2 separate regions of the Homo sapiens genome follow, and region 2 is linked to region 1. The links come from fine-mapping of genetic effects on gene expression. A gene starts in region 1. The other region holds a variant in brackets. All regions are shown on one strand. Distances are between the middles of the regions. Region 1 holds the start of SLC25A18 (solute carrier family 25 member 18). Region 2 holds the start of ATP6V1E1 (ATPase H+ transporting V1 subunit E1).

Evidence for each region.
Region 2: its variant is fine-mapped to the expression of SLC25A18 in fibroblasts (GTEx, PIP 0.92).

The regions. Positions count from the first base shown.
Region 1 is chr22:17,557,806-17,566,983 of GRCh38, forward strand. It overlaps SLC25A18 (solute carrier family 25 member 18), which reads left to right and starts at 5,693. Exons shown (of 11, transcript NM_031481.3): 1 at 5,693-5,908. It overlaps LOC105372850 (a long non-coding RNA gene), which reads right to left. Exons shown (of 3, transcript XR_001755420.2): 2 at 6,464-6,698; 3 at 5,892-6,308. CECR2 (CECR2 histone acetyl-lysine reader) reads left to right here. Exons shown (of 19, transcript NM_001290047.2): 19 at 1-346. RefSeq lists a silencer at 5,464-5,758.
Region 2 is chr22:17,621,934-17,630,980 of GRCh38, forward strand. ATP6V1E1 (ATPase H+ transporting V1 subunit E1) reads right to left here and starts at 6,816. Exons shown (of 9, transcript NM_001696.4): 1 at 6,670-6,816. The coding sequence starts at 6,702. It also overlaps a transcript of BCL2L13 not described here. RefSeq lists enhancers at 6,511-6,660, 6,741-6,830, 6,772-6,941. The variant T/C (reference allele first, on the strand shown) is at 4,293.

The DNA of each region.
Region 1 (9,178 bases):
TCTCCTGCCTTGTGCGTAGCTCCTGGGGCCCCGGTCAGTCCCCAGCAGCCTTGGCACACAGTGTCTGGAGCCTCTGCTCCTGCTGCAAAAGCAGAAACCATGTGAACCTTCTGGCCAGTACTGGAAAGGGGAATGCTATTTATTTTTATATTGTGTATATTTTGTCGTGGTCTGCTGATTCCCTGTTTCACTGAGAGCGACACTTACCTCAATAGTTAGTTCAATATTGTGTGTTGGATAATTTTTTAAAAGAACTTTTTAAAAAGCTTTTTGATCCTTGGAGGTCTGTAGATTTATTTCCATATGAACTGGTTATTTTGTATAAAGTACATGCTTAAAATAGCAAGGCTCCTCTGTGTGTGTGGTGTGTCTGTCCATGTGTCATTTCCATATCAGGGCAAACCCAGACTTCCATCAGGACGAAGGCGTGAACTAGGCCACAAGGCCACCAGCTGAAATGCCACCCCTCGTCCATTCTCATGCATCCAGAATCCACGGAGGCGGGGCACGGGTCCTGTGCATGAGACAGAGGAATATGGTTCCAGAGAACTTCAAAACAGTCATGTACTGACTGGCAGTTCTAAACCATGTCAGGGATAAAACGCTCCTCACAGCCGATCCTTGCGAAGCTGGCCCGGCCGTCAGCATCTCACTGGTAAAGGCGTCCGCCTTCAGAAGGTTACTACACCTGAGGTGCACGACTTCTCTCCTTGCAGGCTTTAGGGTGCCTGGGATGGGAAAGGAGTATAACAGTGGGGCAGCGGGGCAGCTCCAGCCTGGAGCCCGCTGTGCACACACATGGCCAGAAGTGGGAGCTCCAGCCTAAGCAAGCGGGCAATCTTATACCTGCCAAGGTCATTTATGTTTTATTTCCAGTTACTGGGAGAACAGTTTGAAAGTAGCTTCATTCAGCCAGGCGCGGTGGTTCACGTCTGTAATCCCAGCACTTTGGGAGGCTGAGGCGGGCGGATCACGAGGTCAGGAGATCGAGACCATCCTGGCTAACACGGTGAAACCCCGTCTCTACTAAAAATACAAAAAATTAGCCGCGCGTGGCGGCACACACCTGTAGCCCCAGCTACTCGGGAGGCTGAGGCGGGAGAATGGCGTGAACCCGGGAGGCGGAGCTTGCAGTGAGCCGAGATCGCACCACTGCATTCCAGCCTGGGTGACAGAGTGAGACTGTGTCCCAAAAAAAGAAAGTAGCTACATTCTTAGAAATCAGCTACAGTCTTAAGACACCAGAACTCCTGTTTTGTCCTTAAATGCAGACTGTCCCAGTTTAATGATCATTCAACTTAGGAGTTTTTGAAAATGAGACACATTCTGCAGAAACTGTACTTGAAGTCCTCGTGCAACAATTCTCTTTCACCTTCTGTACGGTATTCAATAAACTCCATGACATATTCAACACTGTGTGATAAAGGAGGCTCAGCCAGGTGTGCTGGCTCACACCTGTAATCCCAGCACTCTGGGAGGCCAAGGCAAGTAGATCATATGAGCTCAGGAGTTCGAGACCAGCCTGGCCAACATGGCAAAAGCCTGCCTCTACTAAAAACACAAAAATTAGCGGGGCGTGGTGGCGGGTGCCTGTAATCCTGGCTACTTGGGAGGCTGAGGCAGGACAATCGCTGGAAGCTGGGATGCGGAGGTTGCAGTGAGCCAAGATCGCGCCACTGCATTCCAGCCTGAGCGACAGGAAGACTCCGTCTCAAAAATAAAAATAAAAAAGGAGGCTCAACTGTGGGCTAGCATAAGTTTGCTGAGCATGCTTGAGGCAGGCTAAGCTGTGATATTTGGTGGGTTAGGTGGATTCAGTGCATTTCCAGCTGACAATATTTTCAACTCATGATGGGTTTATCCGGAGGTGACCCCACTGGAAGCTGAGGAGCATCTGTAATTGGCTGTGGAAGTAATCCTCATTCCATAAAAATTTCACCACAATTAGTACCCGTTTCCAAACCCATGCTTGGGGCTGTCCCTTTCTAGGCAGTGATCTGTTCACTCTCCTTTTAACCTCCAGTTGTTTGGTGTCTGATTGTCCCCACTGATACTCTGTTGTTACTGGCTAACAAATTTTTGAGCCTTTTATCCTGGTATTATTTTAAAACTGTTCAGTTATTCTCCCATGAAAAGTGTTTCTATGATAAAACATTTTATGCCAACCGTACTTTCTTGTTTAGTAGTTGCATTTCAGTGTAATTTCTGAAACAAAACAAAAATCAACTTTAAAGTGAAAAATCAGGCTGGGCACGGTGGCTCACTTGATGTCAGGAGTTTGAGATCAGCCTGGCCAGCATGGTGAAACCGTCTCTACCAAAAATACAAAAATTAGCCGGGCATGGTGGCACACGCTTGTGATCTCAGCTACTTAGGAAGCTGAAGCAGGAGAATTGCTTAAACCCTGCAGGCAGAGGTTGCAGTGAGCAGAGATCGCACCACTGCACTCCAGCCTGGGCAAGAGTGTGAGATCCTGTCTTAAAAAATCACTAGTAAACCCCAGATCAGACATGATGCTACTCAAATTGTGCATCTCGATGGATTCTCCCAGTGGGTGGGGGGAGCACCACTCTGGCCTGGCTTCCTTCACTGTTCTGTCAGCTTTCCTAGAGCCCAGTCCAGCTGCATCAGTGGCTGGGATGGCGTTAGCAAACCCACTCCCTGTGCATATCAGCAGCACACCCTTAAAATGCATGCAAACTTTGATTCCTAACTTTCAGATTTCCTCCTACCGTGACATGAATTCTCACCAAACAAAGGCCAGAATGTTTTTTGACATATTTAGCTATTGATAGGCTTTAGCTCTCCCTCTCCCTCTCCCTCTCCCTCTCCTCACGGTCTCCCTCTCTTTCCACGGTCTCCCTCTCATGCGGAGCCGAAGCTGGACTGTACTGCTGCCATCTCGGCTCACTGCAACCTCCCTGCCTGATTCTCCTGCCTCAGCCTGCCGAGTGCCTGCGATTGCAGGCACGCGCCGCCACGCCTGACTGGTTTTGGTGGAGACGGGGTTTCGCTGTGTTGGCCGGGCTGGTCTCCAGCTCCTAACCGCGAGTGATCCGCCAGCCTCGGCCTCCCGAAGTGCCGGGATTGCAGACGGAGTCTCGTTCACTCAGTGCTCAATGGTGCCCAGGCTGGAGTGCAGTGGCGTGATCTCGGCTCGCTACAACCTCCACCTCCCAGCCGCTTGCCTTGGCCTCCCAAAGTGCTGAGATTGCAGCCTCTGCCCGGCTGCCACCCCGTCTGGGAAGTGAGGAGCGTCTCTGCCTGGCCGCCCATCGTCTGGGATGTGAGGAGCCCCTCTGCCTGGCTGCCCAGTCTGGAAAGTGAGGAGCGTCTCCGCCCGGCCGCCATCCCATCTAGGAAGTGAGGAGCGTCTCTGCCCGGCCGCCCATCGTCTGAGATGTGGGGAGCGCCTCTGCCCCGCCGCCCCGTCTGGGATGTGAGGAGCGCCTCTGCCCGGCCGCGACCCCGTCTGGGAGGTGAGGAGCGTCTCTGCCCAGCCGGCCCGTCTGAGAAGTGAGGAGACCCTCTGCCTGGCAACCACCCCGTCTGAGAAGTGAGGAGCCCCTCCGCCCGGCAGCCACCCCGTCCGGGAGGGAGGTGGGGGGTCAGCCCCCCGCCCGGCCAGCCACCCCGTCCGGGAGGTGAGGGGCGCCTCTGCCCGGCCGCCCCTACTGGGAAGTGAGGAGCCCCTCTGCCCGGCCACCACCCCGTCTGGGAGGTGTGCCCAACAGCTCATTGAGAACGGGCCATGATGACAGTGGCAGTTTTGTGGAATAGAAAGGCGGGAAAGGTGGGGAAAAGATTGAGAAATCGGATGGTTGCCGTGTCTGTGTAGAAAGAAGTAGACATGGGAGACTTTTCATTTTGTTCTGCACTAAGAAAAATTCTTCTGCCTTGGGATCCTGTTGATCGGTGACCTTACCCCCAACCCTGTGCTCTCTGAAACATGTGCTGTGTCCACTCAGGGTTAAATGGATTAAGGGCGGTGCAAGATGTGCTTTGTTAAACAGACGCTTGAAGGCAGCATGCTCGTTAAGTGTCATCACCACTCCCTAATCTCAAGTACCCAGGGACACAAACACTGCGGAAGGCCGCAGGGTCCTCTGCCTAGGAAAACCAGAGACCTTTGTTCACTTGTTTATCTGCTGACCTTCCCTCCACTATTGTCCCATGACCCTGCCAAATCCCCCTCTGTGAGAAACACCCAAGAATTATCAATAAAAAAATAAATTAAAAAAAAAAAAAGAATAACAAGAAACATCTATTCTCTGTTTTCCATACCCTAAGCTTGGTTCTAAGCACCTTATGTTCATTGACTTATTAAATTCTCACAACATGAAAAAAAAAAAAAAAGATAGGCTTTAATTTTTCTTGAGACAGGGTTTCACTCTGTTGCCCAGGCTAGGTACAGTGGCATGGTCTCAGCTCACTGCAGCCTCAATCTCCCGGGCTCAAGCAGTCCTCTCACCACAGCCTCCCAAGCAGCTGGGACTACAGGGGCACCCCACCACACCCAGCTAATTTTTTGTCTCACGATGTTGCCCAGGCTGGTCTAGAACTGAGCTCAAGTGATCTGTCTGCCTCAGCCTCCCGAAGTGCTAGGAATTACAGGCGTGAGCCACTGTGCCCGGCCTTTATTTTTTATAAGGAACTTAGCCATTTAGAGTGCTTCCAGATTTATCTTCTTCGGGCCAAAACCAGCAACAAATATATGTACCAAAAGTTAGCATCTTCCACTGGTTAACTGTTTCAAAACAGTGCAGTAGGCAGTGTAAATGTGGCTCTATTTTTGGAACTGTTACTGTTTAACGCTTGTTAAGCATCCTGGGTAAATATATCTTACACAGATAATCCTACACAGTGAGCTTCTTAAAATAAGAGCATAAAAGCTACTCGGGCAAGATTTAGGGAGACAGGAAGCTATACATTGTTACTGTAGATTAGTCTCAAAAGTTCTGATCAACTTTCTATTTTGACATTTGGAGACATCCATAGGTGCTTCTCTTGTTAAAGATTAATGTCTCTTGTCTCTAAACCAATTCGTGTTACTGGAAGGAAAGGCAACGCAAGTTTTATAAATCAGCCCCTTTGTGGGCTCCATTTTGCTATACTCTATGTTCTCTGAGAGTGCTACCAACGGAATTGAGAAAATAACCATCCAGACGGGCTATTTGGGGGCTGATCTTTACCCTGGAATCTTCCTGGAAGGTGAACGGCCTATGTCATGCAGTTGTTATGCAAGAGGTATCATGGGACCTTTCCTTCTGGGCGCTCATGGAGCCGCGGCAGAGCCCTGGGTGACCCAGCAGCAGCTGCCTGCTGTGTGGCTGCCTTCACTGTCCTCCCCCACAACTGCTGTTGATTTCTCTGCATTGACCCTGCAGATGTTTCCCTGGCCTCGTGGTGTTCCTTTGGACTTTTAAGGGACCTCTGTGCATCTATTTTAGTCCCCTTTCTGCTAGCAATGCTCACTCCCCTAGTTTCCTTAAGCAGTTTTATAAAAAACCTTCAGTGAAAAATACTAGCCAAGAAGGCGAAGGCATCTGGAAAATCCCCAGATTTGGCTATTGTGTGCTGCAATGCCAGCCCCCTTCTACAGCCATGACATGCATATCAATGCAGGTGCCCTTGAGACTCCTGCAGGTTCGAGAAAGCATGACATGCTCCCAGAATCCTGGATTTGGACTTCATTCTGGACAGCATATGACAAGGACGAGGACCCCTATTCTAGCCAGTTAAAGCTGGACAGAATTTTTAAAAGCAATGAAGCCAGTTCCTTGGATATATCCACGGGCTTTGCTTTGAGAAGGAACTGAGTAGGCAGTGAGAAGAGTCGAGTGAAGCCTGGCCCGTGAGTGCCTCAACAACTGAGATGAACGTCGACTCGCTTGCAGGCAAGTTGTCAGTAAGTATTTATTAAATACCCACCGTGAGCCTTGTACTTTGCCTAGTTACTAAGAAACCAAAAGGGGGAAAAATAGCCTCATCTGCTCAGAGTTCATAATAAACCTGTATTGTGAATACAGAATACAGAAAAACTGGACTCTAGTGAGGTGCTAGAAAGAGTGTACTGCTTAGCTGAGATAGCAGATGAAGGAAAAATATTTTTGGTTCCTCCCTGCCATGCAATCGTACCGGGAGGGTGGAGTGTTGGTGTTCTCAGCCCATTTAATTTGGATGGAGCTGCGGGCTCATCAGTTTGGGGACTGGCTTCATCGCTTGTTCTGTCCAGCAGTCGCGTCTTCTCGGACTCCTTGTTCCAGCTTGAATTCCTCTTTTGCCCTGGCTCCACTCTAAGACGAAGACTGTGTAATTCAGAAAATGCAGCGCAAGTAATTATGTCCAGTGTGATGCTAAACATTTCCCAAAGGCAGCGTAGATCTGCAGAAACTGCAGCTTGGGAGAAGTGATGGTGTTCCTCTCCCCACCACCTCAGCCTGCCCTGATCATTCTCACTCACATGATCTATTGTGATGTTCTCACAATGTAGCCTGGCCATCATCTGGGAACTTGCTGGAAATGCAGATTTTGGCATCCCGCCTAAGACCTTAAACTGAAGAAGGGCCTAGCTCTCTCTTGTAACTAGCAACAGATGCAACCTGCATGGTTCTGATGCAAACTGACCTGGAAGAATGGCCCTGGCATTTACATTTTGGTCCTTAGATGCAGGTAATCTGAGCTGAACATCTTCAAACCTGAGGCATAGCATAGAAAAAAGAATACAAACAGTTTATATAAAGTAAAAAAAATTTTTAGAAAGGACTTAAGTTGGCTGGGGCGCGGTGGCTCACACCTGTAATCCCAGCACTTTGGGAGGCCAAGGCGGGCGGATCACGAGGTCAAGAGATGGAGACCATCCTGGCTAACGTGAAACCCCATCTATACTAAAAATACAAAAAATTAGCCAGGCGTGGTAGCAGGTGTGGTAGTCCCAGCTACTCGGGAGGCTGAGGCAGGAAACTCACTTGAACCTGGGAGATGGACGTTGTAGTGAGCCAAGATTGAGCCAGTGCACTCCAGCCTGGGGGACAGAGCAAGACTCTGTCTCCAAAAAAAAAAAATCAGGCCCAGGCAACATAATGAGGCCCCACCTCTACAAAAAAATAATTGTTTTAATTAGCCAGGTTGATGGTGTGCACCTGTGATCCCAGCTACTCAGGAGGGTGAGGTGGGTGGATCGCTTGAGCCCAGGAGCCCTCCCTCGGGATGCTCTTATTTCTGCCTGCAGCCTCATTTGTCACTCTGTGCAGACTCATTCTGTTTTTGTTTTGTTTTGTTTTGTTTTGTTTTTGAGACAGTCTTGCTCTGTCACCCAGGCTGGAGTACAGTGGCACAATCTCGGTTCACTGTAAACTCCGCCCCCCCGGGTTCACGCCATTCTCCTGCCTCAGCCTCCCGAGTAGCTGGGACTACAGGTGCCTGCCACTATACCCAGCTAATTTTTTGTATTTTTTAGTAGAGACGGGGTTTTGCCATGTTGGCCAGGATGGTCTCGATCTCCTGACCTCGTGATCCACCCACCTCGGGCTCCCAAAGTGCTGGGATTACAGGCGTGAGCCACCACGCCCTGCCAAATTTTCTATTTTTTAATAGAGATAGGGTCTTGCCAAGTTGAAGTGCAGTGGTATGATCATAGCTCACTGCAGCCTCCAACCCCAGGGCTCAAATGATCCTCCTTCCTCGACCTCCCAAGTAGCTAGAACTACAGACACACACCGCAGCGCCTGGCTAATTTTTTGTTTGGGGTTTTTTTGAGTAATTTTTTAAAAAAATTTTTGGACAGGTGTGTTGGCTCACGCCTGTAATACCAGCACTTTGGGAGGCCGAGGCAGGCAGATCACCTGAGGTGGGGAGTTCAAGACCAGCCTGACAAACATGGAGAAACCCCGTCTCTACTAAAAACACAAAATTAGCCGGGCATGATGGGGCATGCCTGTAATCCCAGCTTCTCCGGAGGCTGAGGCAGGAGAATCACTTGAACCCAGGAGGTAGAGGTTTCAGTGAGCCGAGATCGTGCCATTGCACTCCAGCCTGGGCAACAAGAGTGAAGCTCCGTCTCAAAAAATAAAGAGATGGGGTCTTGGATGTTTCCCAGGCTGGTCTCAAACTCCCAGGCTCTAGTGATCCTCCCACCTCAGCCTCCCAAAGCACAAGGATTACAGGCGTGAGCCACCGCACCTGGCCTCTGTGTTTACTTTTTTGAGGACCTGCCATACTGTCTTCCACCATGGCTGCCGTGTTTTACATTCTCACCAGCAAGGGTTCCAATTCTCTACATCCGCACCAATGCCGATCTCTATTTTTTTGAACCATGCTTGTGGGTGTGACACGGCACTGCACCGCTGTTTCTGGTGCCTGCTGTCACCCCCTCATCTGCAACTGCTACTTTAAGCTCATGTCAGCTGCCAAACTTCTCTTCCCTCCCCGTCTCCTTACCTACCCCCTGCTTCTAACACTCTCAGTGGGGGGATAATGTATCTTCCTCCTGCTGATGCGTGTTTCAAATCTGATACCTGCCTCTGGCGTGTTTAATCACCCACCAAGCCCTGTATAATCTTCACAGAAACCATTCACATCTCTTCCCTCCTGTGAGCAGGCTGTCATTTTCTTTTTTTTTTTTCCAACTGGAGCCTCGCTCTTGTTGCCCAAGCTGGAGTGCAATGGCGCAATCTCGGCTCACTACAACCTCCGCCTCACGGGTTCAAGCGGTTCTCCCGCTTAAGCCTTCCAAATAGCTGGGATTACAGGCATGTGCCACCATGCCCAGTTAATTTTGTATTTTTAGTAGAGACGGGGTTTCTCCACGTTGGTCAGGCTGGTCTCGAACTCCCAACCTCAGGTGATCCGCCCACCTCAGCCTCCCAAAGTGCTGGGATTACAGGCCCGAGCCACCGTGCCTGGCCCAGCCTGTCATTTTCTCTTTTGCCTAGCTTACTGTGTAATCTCCCTGACTTGTCCAAACCACTTGGCACTGCCAGAGACCTGAACTGTCCCGTCGGGTCCCTACTCCATAGCATCCTCTATCAGCTTTCCATTGCCCACCAGAAAAGGTGGGAAGAAAATTAGCATGGGCCGGCCGTGATGGCTCACACCTGTAATCTCAGCACTTTGATAGGCTGAGGCAGGCAGATGGCTTGAGGTCAGGAGTTGTACACCTGCCTAGGGCAACATGGCA
Region 2 (9,047 bases), 64 kb after region 1:
AGATCACCGGCTACAATTGGAGAATAAAGTCCAATGAAGGCTTCCGAATGGGGCTTGGGGAATAATCCAACTTAGACTCATAAATGAAGTATCATCTCTTGTGGCAGATATAAAATATACCCAAGTAAAAATCCAACCGACACAGCTCATCAAACTCACTGGTTGTGGGATGCAATGGTAGCTTCATTTCCTAAGGGAGTGATGAAATCCAAAAAGGAAAAAAAAGCTAAAAATTGACGTAGGATCTTTAGGTCATTAATTCATTTTGTTTATTAATTATCCCACTAAAAGGTAAGCACCACTGAGTACAGGGATCTTGTCTTTTATGCCAGTGTGAACCCAGAACATGGAACAACCACCACCATAGGAGATGCTCAAAAAAATTTGTGAATGAATGCAAATCTGTTGGGAGTTTCAAGACTTCTAAGGAATACAAGGTATCCCAGGTACTTTTTAGGGTTTAACAATCTGTAAACAATCCCCATAGCAGCTTCTCCATATAACACAAGATATCATAAATCTTAAGTATACATAGGTGTACCAAAACGAATTAAGAAAGCACTACTGGGTGGGGAGCTAGGGGAGGGATAGCATTAGGAGAAATACCTAATGTAGATGATGGGTTGATGGGTGCAGCAAACCACCATGGCACGCGTATCACTATGTAACAAACCTGTGCACATTCTGCACATGTATCTCAGAACTTAAAGTATAATGAAACAAAAAAAAGAAAGAAAAGAAAACACTACTGCCTGGGTATGGTGGCTCATGCCTGTAATCCCAAGACCCTGGGAGGCCAAGGTGGGTAGATCTCCTGAGGTTGGGAGTTTGAGACCAGCCTGGCCAAGATGGAGAAACCCCATCTCTACTAAAAATACAAAAAATTAGCCAGGCGTGGTGGTGCATGCCTGTAATCCCAGTTACTCAGGAGGCTGAGGCAGGAGAATCACTTGAACCTGGAGGCGGAGGTTGTGGTAGGCATAGATTGTGCCACTGCACTCCAGCCTGGGCAAGAAGAGCGAAACTCCGTCTCAAAAAAAACAAAACAAAATGAAACAAAAAACATATAGGAGGATTTTAGAAGGGACAGTTTTTTTGTTTTATCAAAAATCTTGGAGCCACCCTACTTTTCTTTTTTTTCTTATTTTGGCAGGTGAGTTGTTACACACTCAGTGGATTCCAACTTCTGTGGCCACCATCGTGTTTCCAATCCTACTTTTAAGGAGACAAAAAGTTATGATGATCAAACCTATGTTATAGATAACATGGTACTTACAATATCTTGAGCCTTGAAATACTTGGGGTACCTAATCCAGACCTAGATGTGTGGGAAATCACTGACCTTGCTTAAAAGATCAGCTCCACAAATTTGGGAGTATGGAGAGGGGTCATGGTAATGGTGTCTACAAGTTTAGTTTGAAGTCTCACTGAACTTATTCTATCTGGAATTTTAAGTCATTTAACTAGCCGGGCTCACGCCTGTAATCCCAGCACTTTGGGAGGCCAATCCGGGTGGATCACGAGGTCAGGAGTTCAAGACCAGCCTGACCAACATGGTGAAACCTGGTCTCTACTAAAAATACAAAAATTAGCCAGGCGTGGTGGCGGGTGCCTGCAATCCTAGCTACTCAGGAGGCTGATGGAGGAGAATCACTTGAACCTGGGAGGTGGAGGTTGCAGCAAGCCAAGATCACGCCTGGGTGACAGAGCAAGACTCTGTCTCAAAAAAAAAAAAAAAGTCATTTAACTAAATACAGTAATCAAAACCGGTGTTTATAAATGCTACAAGTTTGGCCTCTAAAGGTGAACCCTGATTCGGACCTGGATTATCTGCCTTTAGCACTCTGCTGCACCCTTGGCTACCAGATTTGACCAGACCAGCACAGCCTAGAGCAAACTGCGCTAATTCTAACCCAGGTCAGAAGCCTATTTACAGTTAACATGATCATATTCTTTTAAGAGTTCCAAGAAGAGATATAGTCAACCCTTTAAGGACATTTAACTCCACCCCTAAGGCAGAAAATTTGACCTTTAAAAAAACAGTTTCTTCTTCCTGCTCAGTAATTAAGGTTTTTAGAGTCAGGTTTCTTTGTAAATTTGATGAAATAAATTACCATACTCCCCAGGAAAAAAGCAAATATACACAAATATTTTCATGCAATGGAGAAGTCAGAAAATTCAGGATTTATTAAGCATCTACTATGGGCTTGGTGCTTCATCTATTTACTTATGAGAATACAGTAAACAACACACACTGTCCTCATCGAGCTTTCATGTAGCATGAAGGATTATAGGAAATAGACAAGATTCCTTCTTTCAATTTTACATAAATAAAAAATAGGCCGGGTGCAGTGGCTGACACCTGTAATCCCAATACTTTGGGAGGCTGAGGCGGGCAGATCACGAGGTCAGGAGTTCGAGACCAGCCTGGCCAACATGGTGAAACCCCATCTCTACTAAAAATACAAAAATTAGCTGGGTGTGGTGGCGGGCACCAGTAATCCCAGGTACTCAGGAGGCTGATGCAGGAGGATCGCTTGAACCCGGGAGGCAGAGGCTGCAGTGAGCTGAGATCACGCCATGGCACTCCAGCCTGGGCAAGAGAGCGAGACTGTCTCAAAAAAAAGAAAAAATAACTCATGCGCAGTGGCTCACGCCTATAATCCCACCACTTCGGAGGTTCAAGACCAGCCTGGCCAACGTGGCGAATTCCCATGTGTACTAAAAATACAAAAAAATTATCCGGGTGTGGTGACATACGCCTGTAGTCCCAGCTACTGGAGAGGCTGAGACAGGAGAATCGCTTGAACCCAGGAGGCAGAGGTTGCAGCAAGCTGAGATCGCGCCACTGCACTCCAGCCTAGGCGACAAAGCAAGACTCCATCTCAAAAAAAAAAAATCATTTTGATCTAGATTCCAAGGAACTATAGCTTTATCTTTATACTAGCTTTTCCTATGGAAGCCTTAGTCTTCAATATATTATGACAAGGAGGGAAGAAAGGGAACAAGAGGGAGAGAATTAGCACTGTGGCCACTAAGAGTATATGGAGGGCATTTTACTTTTCCACTGCATCAAGCTTTTCCTATATTGAAAGAAGCAGAAGAAGCAGTGAACAGAAGAAGCAGTGAAAAAGGTTTAAAAAAACCCTTTGGTTCTGTAAGAATATTGTATGATTTCTTAAACTTCTCCATAGATACTAATTTTGTCATCTCTATTTACCCTTTGGCATTAGCAGAACCACAAAATGAAGAAGAAATACCCACTCGTCTTAGTGCATATTAGGTTAAGAATAAAATGAAAAGACACTTTCAAGGAAATGGAAACATCCAACGAAAAACTTTTTTTTTTGAGACCGAGTTTCACTCTTGTTGCCCAGGCTGGAGTACAATGGCATGATCTCGGCTTGCTGCAACCTCTGGGTTCAAGCGATTCTCCTGTCTCAGGCTCCCAAGTTGCTGAGATTACAGGCATGCACCACCTCGCCCGGCTAATTTTGAATTTTAGTAGAGACAGGGTTTCTCCATGTTGGTCAGGCTGGTCTCAAACTCCCAACCTCAGGTGATCTCAAACTCCCAACCTCAGGTGATCTGCCCGCCTCGGCCTCCCAAAGTGCTGGGATTACAGGCGTGAGCCGGCCAGGAAAAAATTTTATTGCTCATCTCAGAAGATTCATAAGACAGTGAGTGTGCTTTAGTAAGAGAATTTTCCTAGCACAGTACTTCAGAAAAAAAAGGACTTAGTTCTCTAAACTATGTGCAAATTAAAACTGCAGCCTTAAACTTCCTTCTCTGAAAAATCTATCGGCAATATGATTACTAAATGCAAGGATTCTGATTTGTTAGTTATAGGCTTATAAACTGCTACTATATTCCCCTGAGAGTCTTTTGCATGACAAAATTCTTAATACCTACAGACTTGAAGGTATGGCACTTAAAAAAAAAAAAAAAGTTTCCCAGGACTGATTACACTTTGAAAACTGATGTGGGTTCACGACTTCCACAACAATTTTTTCCCATAAACTCTGATACATCTACTTGGTGCCAAACACCGTTAGGCATTGAGGCTCCTAAATGTAAGCAAAAGGGGTCCTGGCCAGGCGCGGTAGCTCATGCCTGTAATCCCAGCACTTTGGGAGGCCGAGGTGGGCAGATTACGAGGTCAGGAGATCAAGACCATCCTGGCTAATACAGTGAAACCCCATCTCTAATAAAAAATAGAAAAAATTAGCCAGGCGTGGTGGCGGGCGCCTGTAAGTCCCAGCTTCTCGGGAGGCTGGGGCAGGAGAATGGCA[T/C]GAACCCAGGAGGTGGAGCTTGCAGTGAGCGGAGACCATGCCACTGCACTCCAGCCTGGGCAACAGAGCGAGACTTCGTCTCAAAAAAAAAAAAAAAAAAAAAGAAAGAAAAGAAAAAGCGGTCTTCCATTTGACACAATTTTGTTTATTTATTTAATATTTTTAGAGACAGGGTCTTTTGCTCTCTCACCCAGGATGGAGCACAGTGGCATGATCATAGCTCACTGCAGCCTCGACCCCTTGGGCTCAAATGATTCTCCCACATCAGCCTCCCTAAGTAGCTAGGAGCACATGTGTGCCCCACCACACCTGGCAATTTTTTTTTTTTTTTGAGACAGTCTCGCTCTGTTGCCCAGGCAGCAATGGTGTGATCTCGCCTCACCATAACCTCCACCTCCCGGGTTCAAGAAATTCTCCTGCCTCAGCCTCCTAGTAGTTGGGATTACAGGCATATGCCAGCACGCCCCACTAATTTTGTATTTTTAGTAGAGACAGGGTTTTGCCACGTTGGCCAGGCTGGTCTGGAACTCCTGACCGCAGGTGATATGCCCACCTCGGCCTTCCAAAGTGCTGGGATTACAGGCATGAGCAACCATGCCCAGACAGCCTGGCTTATTTTTTAAGAAAAAATTTTTTAGAGATAAGGTCTATGTTGCCCAGGCTGGTCTTGAACTCCTGGGATCAAGCGATCCTCCCACCTCAGCCTCCCAAAGTGCTGGGGGCTACAGGTGTGAGCCACCACACCTGGCGTGTATTTGTGTTTATTAATATTAAAATTTTTTGAGATGGAGTCTCACTCTGTCACCCAGGCTGGAGTGCAGTGGCACAATCTTGGCTCACTGCAACCTCCGCCTGCCGGGTTCAAGCGATTCTCCTGCCTCTGCCTCCTGAGTAGCTGGGACTACAGGCGCACCCCACTAGGCCCAGACAATCTTTTTTTTTTTATTTTTTTGAGAGGGAGTCTCGCTCTGCCGCCCAGGGTCGCTCGGCCTCCCGGGTTCACGCCATTCTCCTGCCTCAGCCTCCCGAGTAGCTGGGACTACAGGCGCCCGCCACCATGCCCGGCTAATTTTTTGTATTTTTAATAGAGATGGGGTTTCACCATGCTGGCCAGGCTCGTCTCGAACTCCTGACCTCAGGTGATCCGCCCTCCTCAGCCTCCCAAAGTGCTGGTATTACAGACGTGAGCCACCATGCCCGGCCCCAGCCTGTATCTCACAAATGTTAACACACACATTAGTGGGAGACCAATCATTACAATCCATTATGATAGAGGGGACTTCCCCAAAATGAAGATTAACAGTACATACAGGCCTGGCGCGTTGGCTCATGCCTGTAATCCCAGCACTTTGGGAGGCCCAGGTGGGAAGATCACCTGAGGTCAGGAGTTCAAGACCAGCCAGGCCAATATGGTGAGACCCTGCCTCTACTAAAAAAAATACAAAAATTAGCCGGGCTTGGGGCGCGAGTCTGTAATCCCAGCTTCTAGGGAGGCTGAGGCAGGAGAATCACTTGAACCCGGGGCGGAGGTTGCAGTGAGCCGAGATCGCGCCCTTGCACTCCAGCCTGGGCGACAGAGTGAGACTCCGTCTCAAAAAAAAAAAAAAGAAAAAAAGAAAAAAACACAGTTCATAAAGTGAACGACCTTGTCAAAACACTGGTTGGAAGCAGGTCTCTTCCCTCCGCACTGTTTCCTATCATATAGCCTTAAGCATTTCCCTCAGGGTTAAAAAAAAAAAAAGTGACAAGGCTGGTTTGTTTTTTTTTTTTCTTTTTCCAGAGGGAGTCTCGCCCTGTCGCCCATGCTGGAGTGCAAAGGCGCGATCTCGGCTAACTGCAACCTCCGCCTCCGGGTTCAGCTTCCCGAGTAGCTGGGATTACAGGCGCGCGCCACCACGTCCGGCTAATTTTCTATTTTTAGTAGAGACCGGGGTTTCACCATTTTGGCCAGGCTAGTCTCGGACTCCTGACCTCAGGTGATCCGGCCGCCTCGGCCTCCCAAAATACTGGGATTACAGGCGTGAGCCACTGCCCCTGGCCACAAGGCTGTTTTCAATCCTTGCACAGATCTCTGTCCGACTAGGCACAGTGAATACCCTTGGAAAACAGGGAATGCTGAGGTGGGAGGCAAAGAGCCAGGGCGTTCAAGAAGGCAGCGCGCAGGCAAGCGGGCAGTGCCCAAGACCCGAGCAAAAGTCACATGAGCTGCGGGGCAAATCTCCGTCCTCAGGCCGACCTCTTGGATCTGGTGACTTGGAGCAAGGGACCTTCCTGCGGCATCTGGGCGGCTCAAGGCCCGCGGCCTTCCCTAGGCGGGCTCCAGCCCACTCCCCGGGACTGCCGCCGCGGCTTCGTAAGACCCAACCAAGCCCCTCACCTGCTTTTGCACGTCAGCATCGCTGAGAGCCATGGCGAGAGCAATGCTAGGCCGGTGAACAGTAGGCTCGAGTTTAGGTTTGAAAGGTGAGGTGAGAGAAATCGGCAAAGGGAACCCCTGCGCAGATCTCGGGTTCCTTTACTTTATAACCGCGGGTTCCGGTTCCTGCCAGGTGACTGCACAGTTCATCCTCATGACCCTTCTCAGCCAATGGGAAGAGAGCGACGCCCAGGAAGTCCCGCCCTGTCCCGGCCTGTGGGCGCGTCCTCGGGTCCTTCTACGTCGCTGACTCGTGACCTGACCGGTATTTTTTTCCTAAACTGGGATCTTGGGTAGGAGGAAGAAAAGATAAGGAGTTCCTCTATCTGAAATTAGTCGGGCTGTTTTGAGGAGTACTGGTTAGGTATATTGGAGAATGTGCCTTTATTGGAATTTTTCGCATAATTACACAGGGTTATGGGCTTAGGGGTACATGATTGTTGGCCGGGCGTGGTGGCTCACGCCTGCAATCCGGAGACTTTGGGAGACCAAGGCGGGTGTATCGCTTGACCTCAAGTTCGAGACCAGGCTGGACAACATAGAGGAACCCCGTCTCTACCAAAAGAAAAAAAAAAGGGGGATACATGATTTCTGACTATTCATGTCAACCTTGATTACCTGAATAAAGTGTAGGGTTTGTAGGTTTCTCCACTCTGAAGTTACCTTTTTTAACCCCCTTTCCATACTGTAGTCTTAGGAAGGAAGCCACTATACAAAGCCCACACCTAGGGAGTGGGAAGCTATGCTCAACTTCCTTATTAGGGTGGAGCAGCTACATAATTTATTTGGAACTTTTCTGAGATAGCCTATATATTTTTCAAAAGCCTTCCCAGGTCCCATTTAGAGGAATATTAGGACAGAAATCCCCCCAGGCTCATTTGTTTTTATTTGGATTTACCTCAAGCCCGTTTTTTTCCCCAAAATCCCAAAGGCAAAAACTTTTGAAAATTCCTTTATCTTTAGGATAGACTGACTCCTAATAGTAGAATAAGAGGTCAAATGGTACACCCACTTTTTTCTTTTTACTGTGCTATGGTTACCCACCATTTTTATTAGCTTTTTATCTTGAAGAAATTTGAGATATAGTAACTTGTAAGAATACTGCATTGACCTCCCTTCACCTAGATTCAACAATTGTTAACATTTTGCTACATGTACATTAACACTTTATTTTCATACACACACACACACACACACACACACACACTTCCTATTTTAGTGTGTCATAAGAACGAGGATGTAGCAAATTCAGGAAATTTAGTTTACTAGGCTGAACATTAATTTCCTTTGTCCCGGGCCAGGCGCGGTGTCTCACGCCTGTAATCCCACCACTTTGGGAGGCTGAGGTGGGCAGATCACCTGAGGTCGGGATTTCGAGACCAGCCTGACCAACATGGAGAAACCCCAGTCTCTACTAAAAATACAAAATTAACAGGCGTGGTGGTGTGTGCCTGTAATCCCAGCCACTGGAGAGGCTGAGGCAGGAGAATTGCTTCAACCCAGGAGCAGAGGTTGCGGTGAGCCAAGATCGTGCCACTGCACTCCAGCCTGGGCAATAAGAGTGAGACTCCGTCTCAAAAAAACAAAAAAAAAAAAAACAAATTCCTTTGTCCCATCAATCCATCAATGTACTTTATAACCCTTTCTTTTTTTTTTGAGACAGAGTCTCACTCTGTCGCCCAGGCTGCAGTGCAACGGCATGGTGTCAGCTCACTACAACCTCTGCCTCCCGGGATCAAGTGATTCTCCTCCCTCAGCCTCCCAAGCAGCTGGGATTACAGGTGCCTGCCACCATGCATGGCTAATTTTTGTATTTTTAGTAGAGATGAGGTTTCACTGTGTTGGCCAGGCTGGTCTTGAACTGCTGACCTCGTGATCCACCTGCCTCGGCCTCCGAGAGTGCTGGGATTACAGGTGTGAGCCACTGCACCCGGCCTTCTTTTTCTTTTCTTTTTTTTTTTTTTTTTGAGATGGAGTCTCGCTCTGTTGCCCAGGCTAGAGTGCAGTGGCAGAATCTCGGCTCACCACAACCTCCGCCTCCCGGGTTCAATTGATTCTCCTGCCTCAGCCTCCCCAGTAGCTGAGATTACAGGCATCTGCCACCACGCCCAGCTAATTTTTGCATTTTTAGTAGAGATGGGGTTTCAACACATTGGCCAGGGTGGTCTTGAACTCCCGACCTCAGGTGATCTGCCTGCCTCCACCTCCCAAAGTGCTGGGATTACAGACGTGAGCCACCGCGCCCAGCCATAACCTTTTTTTAATAACCTTACTTTTTAACCTTTTATAACCTTCTTATAACCTTACTTTATAACCTTTATAACCTGGATTGGATCCAG